2 separate regions of the Homo sapiens genome follow, and region 1 is linked to region 2. Evidence: fine-mapped expression QTL. A gene starts in region 2. The other region holds a variant in brackets. All regions are shown on one strand. Distances are from middle to middle.

Region 1 (5,372 bases), 33 kb after region 2:
TCCGCCCACCTCAGGCTCCCAAAGTGCTGGGATTATAGGCATGAGCCACTGTACCCAGTCTATTCTTCTTAAATAATATCCTATGAATATGTTTTTCACAGTATCACATGGGAACTTTAGCTTTTAGACTGATTGTTTTTAAAAACCTCTGAAAAAAAGTAATTTTCTGTCTTATCAGAACTTTAGCATCTGAAGGATCCTTTGAAGATTTTGTTAAATGGTCAACTCAACCAATTATCCAAATTTACTGCTTATCTCAAAATGTATTTCTCTTTTTTTTTTTGAGACTGAGTCTTGTTCTGCCCCACCGGCTGGGGTGCAGTGGCATGATCTCGGCTCACTGCAACGTCTGCCTCCTGGGCTCAAGTGATTCTCCTGCCTCAGCCTCCTGAGTAGCTGGGACTATAGGAGTGTGCCCCCACGCACGGCTAATTTTTGTATTTTTGGTAGATATGGGGTTTCACCGTGTTGGCCAGGCTGGTCTCGAACTCCTGACCGCAAGTGATCCACCCACCTCGGCCCCCCAAAGTGCTGGGATTACAGGCATGAGCCACTGTGCCTGGCCTAAACATGTATTTCTTTTAATTATATTTTTATATTTTGATTTCACTTTCAAAAAATTTTACATGCATTTTGTTCTGCAAGACTTAACAATGAAAAACAGCTGTCTCCTGTCTAATCCATCTTTGCTCCCAGTTCCCAACCATCAGAGGTAACTGCTTTTTAACAAGAAACAAGTTTCTTTTTTATTTGCCTTTATGCTTCCACTGTTATCACATGTCTATACCGTTATTTCTGGACTTTCAGTTTTATGTATAATCTACTCTCTTCTTACTTTGGAAGATTAGAATTTGCTTCCCATACCACGCTGCCCCTACTTCCCCTGGTACCATCTTCCTTATATGATCATCTCATCTCATAATTTTTGGTTAGATAAATATTGGGGGTTTATTTTGTGGCCATGTGAACAGTGTTGATAGCCCAGCAATGTAGAGTACTGTGATTGCATTTATTCTCTTGTGCAGCTTTCTGTTTTTCCTAGAATTGTTCATTTTCTGTCTATTTATTTATTTAGAGATAGGCTCAAGCTATATTGCCCAGGCTGAACTGGAACTCCCGGGCTCCAGTGCTAAGCTAATATCCTGTTCTTCACTCCATTTACATCCCTAGTTTTAACCTGGTTCCATCGATGTTTCTTACCTGAAATAATAATTATGATCATATTTGACAAAGGTGGTTTTCCTTCTTTCTGTATGATTTGACATTCTACTGTCAGGAAAAGCTTTCTCTTCTGTCCGGTTACTTATTCGTTTTTTTGTTTATAGCAGTTGGAGTCAGGGGTTTCTATTTTATTCAGTGGGTTATCATTCATTGCTATCATTATTAATTTTGATTTTTCAATTACACCAGATTTGGTGTGGCCCCATCCAGCTGGCCCCTGTGTCCCTTTGACATGTCCACACTATGCTTTGAATGCTTAGTGACTTTTTGCCACAACAAGGTGTTCCAGGTTCATCTTGTTCTTCCTCTCTCCCAGCCAGGACTCAGCCTTCCTCCAAATGGCATTTTGAAAACAAGATCTTGGCACTGGGTATGTTCATTGCTACCAGAGCATTGCTGCTCCCATACCTTCTTGGTGAACAGAGCTGAAAATACACACACACACACACACATCAAATATGCATATATGTATACACATATGCATGCAGGTGCATATACATGTATATATATAGACACACCTTTCTGTCTATATTCTCTCTCTCTCCACATAAACACAGATTCTCACCATGTGTTCTCACTGAGAGCTCCAACTCCAGCCCAACACTATGGGCTTCTTCAGTTTCCTCCTTTTTTTTTTTTTCTGAGACGGATTCTTACTCTGTCACCCAGGCTGGAGTGCAGTGGTGTGATCTCGACTTACTGTAACCTCTGCCTCCTGGGTTCAAGTGATTCTCCTGCCTCAGCCTCCTGAGTATCTGGGATTATAGGCACACGCCACCACGCATGGCTAATTTTTGTATTTTTTAGTAGAGATCAGGTTTCACCACGCTGGACAGGCTGGTCTTGAACTCCTGACGTCAAGTGATCCGCCCGCCTCGGCTTCCCAAAGTGCTTGGATTACAGGTGTGAGCCATTGCACCTGGCTTTTTT[T/G]TTGTTGTTGTTGTTTTGTTTTTTTTGAGACAGAGTCTCACTCTTGTTGCCTAGGCTGGAGTACAGTGTCACAATCTCGGCTCACTGCAACCTCTGCCTCCCGGGTTCAAGCAATTCTTCTTCCTCAGCCTCCTGTGTAGCTGGGACTACAGGTGCACACCACCATGTCTGGCTAATTTTTGTATTTTTTAGTAGAGACGGTGTTTCACCATGTTGGCCAGGCTGGTCTTGAACTCCTGACCTCAGGTGGTCCGCCTGCCTCCGCCTCCCAAAGTGCTGAGATTACTCGCGTGAGCCACCGCACCCAGCTGGTTTCCTCCTTTCTGCATCTGTGCCTCCCTGCCTCATCAAGGAGAAACCTGAATCCTCTTGTCCATGCTAAGCTATACCTCTGCTCTGCCCCGGTGCATACCCATCTTTGATTGCAGCAGGCTGCCGCCCAGGTCCAGCCTCACAAGGGCCACTGTGACTGTCATCCTCGAGCCTCATGATTTTGACTGGATGCACTGAGAAAGGTAGGCAGGCAGGAGGAAGAAAGGAAAGAAGGGAGAGATACAGAAAGGCAGCGAAGGGGAGAGGGAAAAGACAGGCAGGCATGGGATGGGTTTTTAAAGCTTTAGAAGATTTCTTGGATTTTCAGGAATGTTCAGTTTGTCTCTACCCCATGTCCCTGATGCTGCCACTGGAGGGGAACAGAATAGAGATCTAAGCCCAGTCTGGGCTGCAGGTCCCAGAGGTGAGAGGGATCTGAAGGCCCCAGATCCTGACCCCCCGTAGCCATGATGGCCTTGCTAATTCATTTCATGCACACAGTGGGAACTTTTACAAATTAAAACAAAATGAAAAAAAGCTCACTGGGGTGGCTCATGCCTGTAGTCCTAGCACTTCAGGAGGCCAAGGTGAGCAGATCGCTTGAGACCAGGGGTTTGAGACCAGCCTGGGCAACATGGCGAAACCCCATCTCTACAAAACATACAAAAATTAGCCGGGTGTGGTGGTGCATGCCTGTGGTCCCGGCTACCTGGGAGACTGAGGCAGGAGGATGGGTGGAGTCCGGGAAGTTGAGGCTGCAGTGAGTTGAGATTGCACCACTGCATTCCAGCCTGGGTGACAAGAGCAAGGCCCTGTCTCAAAAATAAATAAATAAATAAAATGTTTTAAGTCGGGATAGATTTGTTAAGCTCAATGATCTGGTGATATGGCACAGTGACCCTTTGACTAACTGACTTAGCCACGGTAGGTGTGGAAAGGGAAAGTGGTCTCTACTCACGGGCTCTGGGGTCCCTTCCTTTTGCACCCACGGTAGCTCTGCTCATTTGCATTAGTACTGTCTGGCTTTGGATTATATTTCTTTTGATAAAGGGTTTGAAAGAAAACTGAGCTGGGCGCGGTAGCTCACACCTGTAATCCCAGCACTTTGAGGGGCCGAGGCGGGCAGATCACCTGAGGTCAGGAGTTTGAGACCAGACCGGCTAACATGGTGAAACCCTGCCTCTACTAAAAATATGAAAAAATTAGCTGGGTGTGGTGGCACGTGCCTATAATCCCAGCTACTCAGGAAGCTGAGGCAGGAGAATCGCTTGAACCCAGGAGGTAGAGGTTGCAGTGAGCTAAGATCACGCCACTGCACTCGAGCCTGGGCCACAGAGTGAGACTCCATCACAAAAAAAAAGAAAAGAAAAGAAAGGAAACTGAGCCTGAGTTCCAGTCCTCCTGGGCCTCCTTGCTGGGTGACCCTGGGCAAGCCTTTCCTTCCCTGAGCTTCAGTTTCCTATCTGGGAAAGGACAGGTTGGATGCTGAGTTCTGTGCATCTCAGTGTCAGGTGTGTTGCACACATAGCTGGGGACCAGCCACCAGTGCCCAGGGAGGGCCACCAGTTCCCCAGGCAGGGGAGGGAGGAACCACTTTCCCCACCCTCTTCCAGAGAAACAGGTCACTGGCTGGGCTTGGGCCTGCAGCCAAGGGGAACTCAGAGACAATAAGCCCAAGTCACCCAGCTGGCAGGTTGTGCAATTTCCACCAGCGCCTGCAAACAAGATGTTGGCCCCTGAACTTTGGACTCTGGGCAGCCTTCTCCCCACCCCTCAGACCTAAACCACCCAGTTTAGGGGACAAGGCTGGGGGTGGGCAGGGTGCTCACTTAGTTCCAAGGACAGCCAGGTGGCTCTGGGCGCCTTGAAGAGAGAGGGTCCCACCAAGGAGGGTGTCAGAGCACCTGGCTGTGGGGAGTCAGTGGAGGAGGCTGGCCATTGGGGAACTGTCAGAGTGTGTGTGTGTGTATGTGTGTGTGTGTCTGTGTCTGCATGTGGACAGGCGGCACCTGTGAGCTGAGTTGCCTCTGCCTATGCATGGAGCCATGGTTACTCTCAGGGGAGTGACATCAGCAGATTGTCGGATGCTGGATGCTGCTTTGTGACTGCAGGGTGGTCCATGCACGAGTCTGTGAGGGTATGATGTGTGTCCTCGTGTGTGAGTCATCCTGGCTATTGATAGGCGTGTGTGTTATCTGTTTGCATGCATGTATGTAATGGGGCCCATGGCAGAGTGCAGATAGGTGAGACTGCACACACGTGTGATTCTGTGGGGGCACGTGCAGGTGTGTGGCTCTGATTGTGTGCCGATGAGTGTGCATGTGGGTGTAAATACACGCATGTGTGCACAATGGTGGGTGGGCATGTTTACCATCAAGGATACGTGTGTGTGTGTGCATGCCTGTGTGAGCCCCATTTGCTGGGCCTGTGGTCTCTGTGGTGGTACTATGGTTTGTAAACACGCATGACCTCTTTACTACACATGAGTGCAGGTAACATGGATGTCCACGCAAGTGCCAGTGTAGGACCCGTGTCCCTGGAGCTTTGGCCCAGCTTGTCACACGCTTCACCCCCTGTGCCCCTACCAACCTGTCAATTACTTTCATGCTTCCAGCAAGTCTCTATTCTGAACCTCAGTTTTCCCATCTGAACTGCATAGGAGGAGGTTGGACTGGATGAGCCCTCAGGCTCCTCCTACCTGTGCAGCGACTTGGATACCGCGTCACAAAGAACATGCAAACATGAGGAAAGTGAGAGCCCAGAACGCCTAGAATTTACCTCAGTCCCTGGCTGAGGGACAGGAAGCTTTGAAGTGACAGATGAAGCTAGGGACCCAGATCCTGGGATAGGGCAGGCCCAGCAAGGGCCTGAGGGACCCACTGTCTTCCGTCTGGTGAGCCACCACCATG
Region 2 (5,372 bases):
CCTCAGTAAATGGGGACATGGCCGGGCATGGTGGCTCATGCCTGTAATTCCAGCACTTTGGGAGGCCAAGGCGGGCGGATCACCTGAGGTCAGGAGTTCGAGACCAGCCTGGCTGGCCAACACAGTGAAACCCCATCTCTACTAAAAATACAAAAATTATCTGGGCGTGGTGGCACCTGCCTATAATCCCAGCTACTCAGGAGGAGGCTGAGGCAGGAGGCTCACTTGAACCCAGGAGGCAGAGGGTGCAGGGAGCTGAGATTGCGCCACTGTACTCCAGCCTGGGCAACAGAGTGAGACTCTGTCTCAAAAATAAATAAATAAATAAATAAAAATAAATGGGGACCATCTATCGTGGTGCTACTTTAATGAAATTATGCAAGTCATGTCTCTGAACCTCAGTTTTATCATTTGTGAAATGGGGATAATAAACCCTATCTACGATGAGCAGAAAATGAACGGATGTGTGCTAAAGTACTCAGCACTAGGTCTGTGCACCTTAGCCAGTCAAATACCATATCCCAAGTGCAATGGAAAGAGGAAAGGCTGTGAGGCTGGGCAGGTGACTTCGGATTCTGCCCCCACCTCCTCTCAGCTGCCCCAGGACACAGGCTTGACCCCCGTGTGCCTCAGTTTCCTTGTGCACAAAACCAAAAGCATTTTCTGTCACAGAAGACCAACGGGAGATTCACACCCCCTAGAACGGCTCCCAGCACACAGCCCCTTCTGCTCCGCAAAAGGGAACTTCCTCCCCATTTCCCTCCTCTGCCCTTGTTCAAACCCACCAGAAATGCCACCAGTTAAAGCCAGGCGCTCCATTTCTGGAAACCCAAACAGCTCTAAATCCAGACCAACCTGGGTCTAAGGCCTTCAGTCTGAGACTTTATTTTGTGGAGATACAAACTACTTTTTAGTCATTTCCGAAGCAGACGGGACAGCAGAGGCTGACAAACCACAGGGACCATTTTAAATCCTGGGCCTTTTCTTCTGGGAAGTTAGGCAAGAACCTTCCCAAATGTTTGCCCGTCAGGCTCTCTGCCAGGGAGTGACTCATTCCACGGCTCCCCACAGGCATATTTTATTTGGGGGTGGGGGACGCAGCGAGGGCTTGGCCTTGATGGGGGAAGGAGAGGGGGCATTTCCAGCAAACCCAGAAGGTGTTTTCTTTTTTTCATTTTCAGGAGAAAAAAGAAAAAGAATGTGGGTCTTTTTTGCTTCCTTCCAGGTTTTGTTTGCTAAAAGAAGACGTCCAAAGTTCATTCGGTAAGCTCAAACTCGCTGAGTCCAAACTCGCTGAGTCCGGGGCAGGCGCTTCCAGACGGCTCTGCGTCCCTTTCAATGAAATTCTTCTTCCATTAACGACAGGGTTTTTAAACGTGCCTCCAAGACCTGCCTGCACGTACTGTACACCAAACTAAGGCGACATTTTCCCCCAAAAAAGGCAAGCTGAATTTGGAAAAGTCAGACCAACTAGGGAGCTCTGGAATTTCTAAAGTTTGCCTTAAAGCAATTAAGACTTTCAGCTGCAAAGATTTTCAACAGTTAGAGAGCACGCACACACACAAAAGCCTGTCAGTCAAAACTGCAAGGACAGACCTCGGAAGCTGGTGTCCCAAGCCCGCTGTGATCAATTTGTTACTGTCCTGGGATTCACACTTGGAGCCTAGGAGAGGTATAAATAAATCAAAAGATCCGTCTACTTAGCAGGGCAGGCAGAGAGGCCCCCACATACACAGGCAAGTCTAGGGTCAGCCCCCCAGGCCTGGCTGGAGAGAGACAAGAACAAAGACAGGAGAGCCTGGAGGATATTTAGGAAAACACACGTCCTCGGGTGCCCGGCCGAGGGGCCCACCACAGCCTCCGCTCGCCCAGCCTGTGTATGCAGAGAGGGTCCTGCCAGTGGCCCTGCCGCAGCCTGGCTCTAAGACCTTTGCCTCTGTCAGGCCCAGCCAGGCTCTGAGTCTGCCCTCCTGGCCCCTGGTTCACCGGATCAGGCCCAGCCCCGACCCCCAGCCCATGCCAGGCCGCTTCTCTCTCCACGGGCTCCCTGGCTCGGGGGCCATCACTGTGCAAAGGCCTGGTGGGCGCAAAGGGGGCCGGCCCCTCAACCTCAGTAATAAACACGCTCGCACGGCCCTGCACACTCGTTATACTCACACCCACACAGGCATACTTTCGCCCTTCTAGGCTCACGCATGTGCTTGCACACAAATCACTTTGGAATGCACACACGTGCACACACACACTCCCTGAGACCCGCACGTACTCCCTGCGGCGCCCGGCACACTCCTCCGCCCGTCGTCCCCACTCGGGAAGTGGGTAGCGGGGAGCCATGCCCGCGTCCCCGCACGCACTCACCCCAACAACGCCACCAGACGCTCCGGGGTGCACACGCACACCCGCCGGGGACGCGCACACCCCGGGACACGCGGACACGCCGCCCCCGCCCGCCCGGCCGCCGACACGCTCAGCCCCGCGCGGCCACACTCGCGCCCGCCTCCCGCTCTCCCCCGCGGAGCCGTGGGCGCGCGCCCGCCCTCGGCCCGGCTGGGGGTGACGGCCCCGCCGCCCGGCCCCCGCCCTTCTCCGGGCCGCGGGGCCCCACCGGCCCGGCCCCAGCCCCAGGCGACTCACCGGCGCGCGGGCGGGCTCGGCTGCCGCTGGGGGACCGGTGCGCTGGCCCGCGGGCGGCTGGAGCGGTGCGTCCCACACGAGTTTGCGGCGCAGCGGCCGCACGCCCGTCAGCTCGGTTCCGCCGCCGCCGCCACCGCCTGCGCGGGCCCGCGCGCCCGCGCGCCCGCCCCTCCCCGCCGCGGGGCCGCGCCGCCCCCAGCGCTCGTGCGCGCTGCCGCCACGCAAGCTTGAGGGGCGGGGGGCGCCCCGGCGGCGTCCTTCCTGGGCCTGGACCCCTCGACTCCGCCGAGTTCTGCGGCCGATCCGCTCGGCCGAGGAACCCCTTCCCCATTTCAGAGATGGGAAGACTGAGGCCCAGACTCACAGGGCGCAGGCCGGCGTCTCCCCATCTTCTCCGGCTCTAGACTTATGATGAGGGTCTGCAGTCAGCCAACCCTTGGACTCCTGTGCGTCTTCGGATTCCCCATCGCCTAGCATTGCTCCTACCACAGCCCTAGTCATACTGAAATTGGCACAGTAACAAGCACTTATTGTGCACCAGCTGAATGCAGGCACTGAAGTAGGCTCCAAGAGTATTCCGATGAGGGGAAGGCCCTGCCCCCTGCCCTCAAAGTGCCAGCGACTCTTCATCTGGAGCTCCCACTTCCTGTGGCCCCCGGGGGACCAGCAAGAGCCAATGTGCAGAGGTTTCTGGAAGTAGTAAAAGTCCCCACTAAAGAATGTTGAACGCCCCCTCTAGAAGTCAGAGCCTCCCTGAGACCCAAGCAGCTCAGTTCTCACTTCACCTCCTCCCCGCACCGAGAGCGGCCGCTCCTGGCTGGGCTGTTTCCACCCCTGCTGCCTCCCCTCCACATTCAAAACTGTGCTGCACCCCAGGAGGGCTGGAGCCAGGGACACTGACTGCCTGCTTGGGCGCAGCACTGTACTGGGCACAGGGTGAATGCCCGTCTGGCTTCTGTTTGCCAAATGAGTGGAAGTGCTTCAACTGGCCGTGATCTGTAATAATGACACCAACGGAGCGTCCACCACGTGTGCCAACGTTACCCTTGTGCCCATTTTACAGATGGGCTTTGAGGCTTAGAAATGAAATTTCAGGCTGGGTGCGGTGGCTCACACCTGTAATCCCAGTACTATGGGAGGCTGAGGTGGGAGGATGCCTTGAGGCTGGGAGTTTGAGGCCAGCCTGGGCAATATAGCAAAACCCCATGTCTACAGAAAAATGTAAGAATTAGCTGGGTGTGGTAGTGCCTGCCTGCAGTCCCAGCTACTCGGGACGCTGAGGCGGGAGGGTCTCTTGAGCATAGGAGTTAGCAGCTGCAGTGAGCTATGATCGCACCACTGCACTCCAACCTGGACAACAACAATAAAAAGCAAATTCTTTTGTTCAAAGTCACCCAGATGGTAAGTGGTTGAGCTGGAAAGTGCACGGCAGATTGTCTAATTCCAGTGCCTGTGTGGCCAATCACTAGGCAGCCCTGCCTCAGGAACAGCATAGCCCTGGGCTTCTGGAACAAGAGGGCAGACGAGGCAGCAGCTGGCCCACAGGAGCGGGCCTGGTCCCAGCTCTTGTGGATGAAAATGCAGACATCACAAACCAATGGGGAGGAAATGGATTGTTCTGCAAATTGTTTAGCCGTTTAGCTGGAGATCTGTTTACAGCCTTGCCTCCCATGATATACACCACAATAAATGTCAGACAGATTGAAAAGTTAAATAGAAGAAATAAACACTGCAACAAATAATAGAAAGAAATCGAAGTTCTGAGACAGCGTATTGCAGTGTTACTAGAGGATTTGTGATACTGGCCATATTCATGCAGCAAACATTAGTTCAGTCATTGGTTCACCCGACACATCTATGAGCACCTTCCATGGGCCAGGTACTTTTCTAGGCACTGGGATAAAGGAGTGAACAAAATATGGCCCTTTCTTGGGGCTTCAGTCAAGGGGGAGGGATGGGGTGGGAGGAAGACACTGAATATCTGCCATTTCAAGGATAAGAAGTTTGGGCCGGGCGCGGTGGCTCACGCCTGTAATCCCAGCACTTTGGGAGGCCGACGCAGGCGGATCACAAGGTCAGGAGATCGAGACCATCCTGGATAACACGGTGAAACCCTGTCTCTACTAAAAATACAAAAAAATAGCCGGGCATGGTGGCAGGCGCCTGTAGTCCCAGCTACTTGGGAGGCTGAGGCAGGAGAATGGCGTGAACCCGGGAGGCGAAGTTTGCAGTGAGCCGAGATCGCGCCACTACACTCCAGCCTCAGTGACAGAGCGAGACTCTGTCTCCAAAAAAAAAAAAAAAAGAAGTTTGGTGGAGAAATAACTCGGAAGGGTAGGAGGACCCAGGGGTGCTTTTTTATAGGGGGTGCTGGAAGAAGGCCTTTCTGATGAGGTGACATCTGAGCAGAGGCCTGAATGAGGGAGTGGGAGAAGTCAGTAGGGGCCCACTGTGTGGAGGGCAGGTCCCATGTTCTGGCAGCTATTCAGTTAAGCTACAGAGCAAGAACCAGAAACTCCCTTTTGAAGGAAACTTTGAGAGCCGCACCAGGCCACTGGGAGGAAAGGACTGCCCCCACCCCCAACACACAATATCTATGTAAGACTTTACTGCTTGCAAAGCCCTTCCCCAGCTTCACAGAACCCGTATGACAGATACTTGTGATGTCCTCATTTTCCAGTTAGGAAACCGAGGCTCAGAGAGGTCAAGCAATCTGTCCCAGGTCACACAGCCAATGA

Direction of the effects. Positions count from the first base shown, and alleles are read on the strand shown. Sizes are in standard deviations (SD) of each study's normalised expression.
In carriers of allele G in region 1, the expression in monocytes of the gene that starts at base 2,771 in region 2 tends to be lower than with T alone (large effect, 0.88 SD a copy in Fairfax 2014).

Evidence for each region. PIP is the estimated chance that this variant, and not a neighbour inherited with it, causes the effect.
Region 1: its variant is the best candidate, but not a certain one, in a credible set for the expression of NEK6 in monocytes (Fairfax 2014, PIP 0.79).

What each region holds. Positions count from the first base shown.
Region 1 is chr9:124,222,320-124,227,691 of GRCh38, reverse strand. No RefSeq gene overlaps it. Among named protein-coding and RNA genes, the nearest start is that of NEK6, 33 kb to the left of the region's middle. The variant T/G (reference allele first, on the strand shown) is at 2,152.
Region 2 is chr9:124,255,348-124,260,719 of GRCh38, reverse strand. It overlaps NEK6 (NIMA related kinase 6), which reads right to left and starts at 2,771. Exons shown (of 10, transcript NM_014397.6): 1 at 2,635-2,771. It overlaps LOC613206 (a long non-coding RNA gene), which reads left to right. Exons shown (of 2, transcript NR_149024.1): 2 at 1,226-1,510. RefSeq lists an enhancer at 1,209-2,154 and silencers at 2,192-2,561, 2,622-2,751.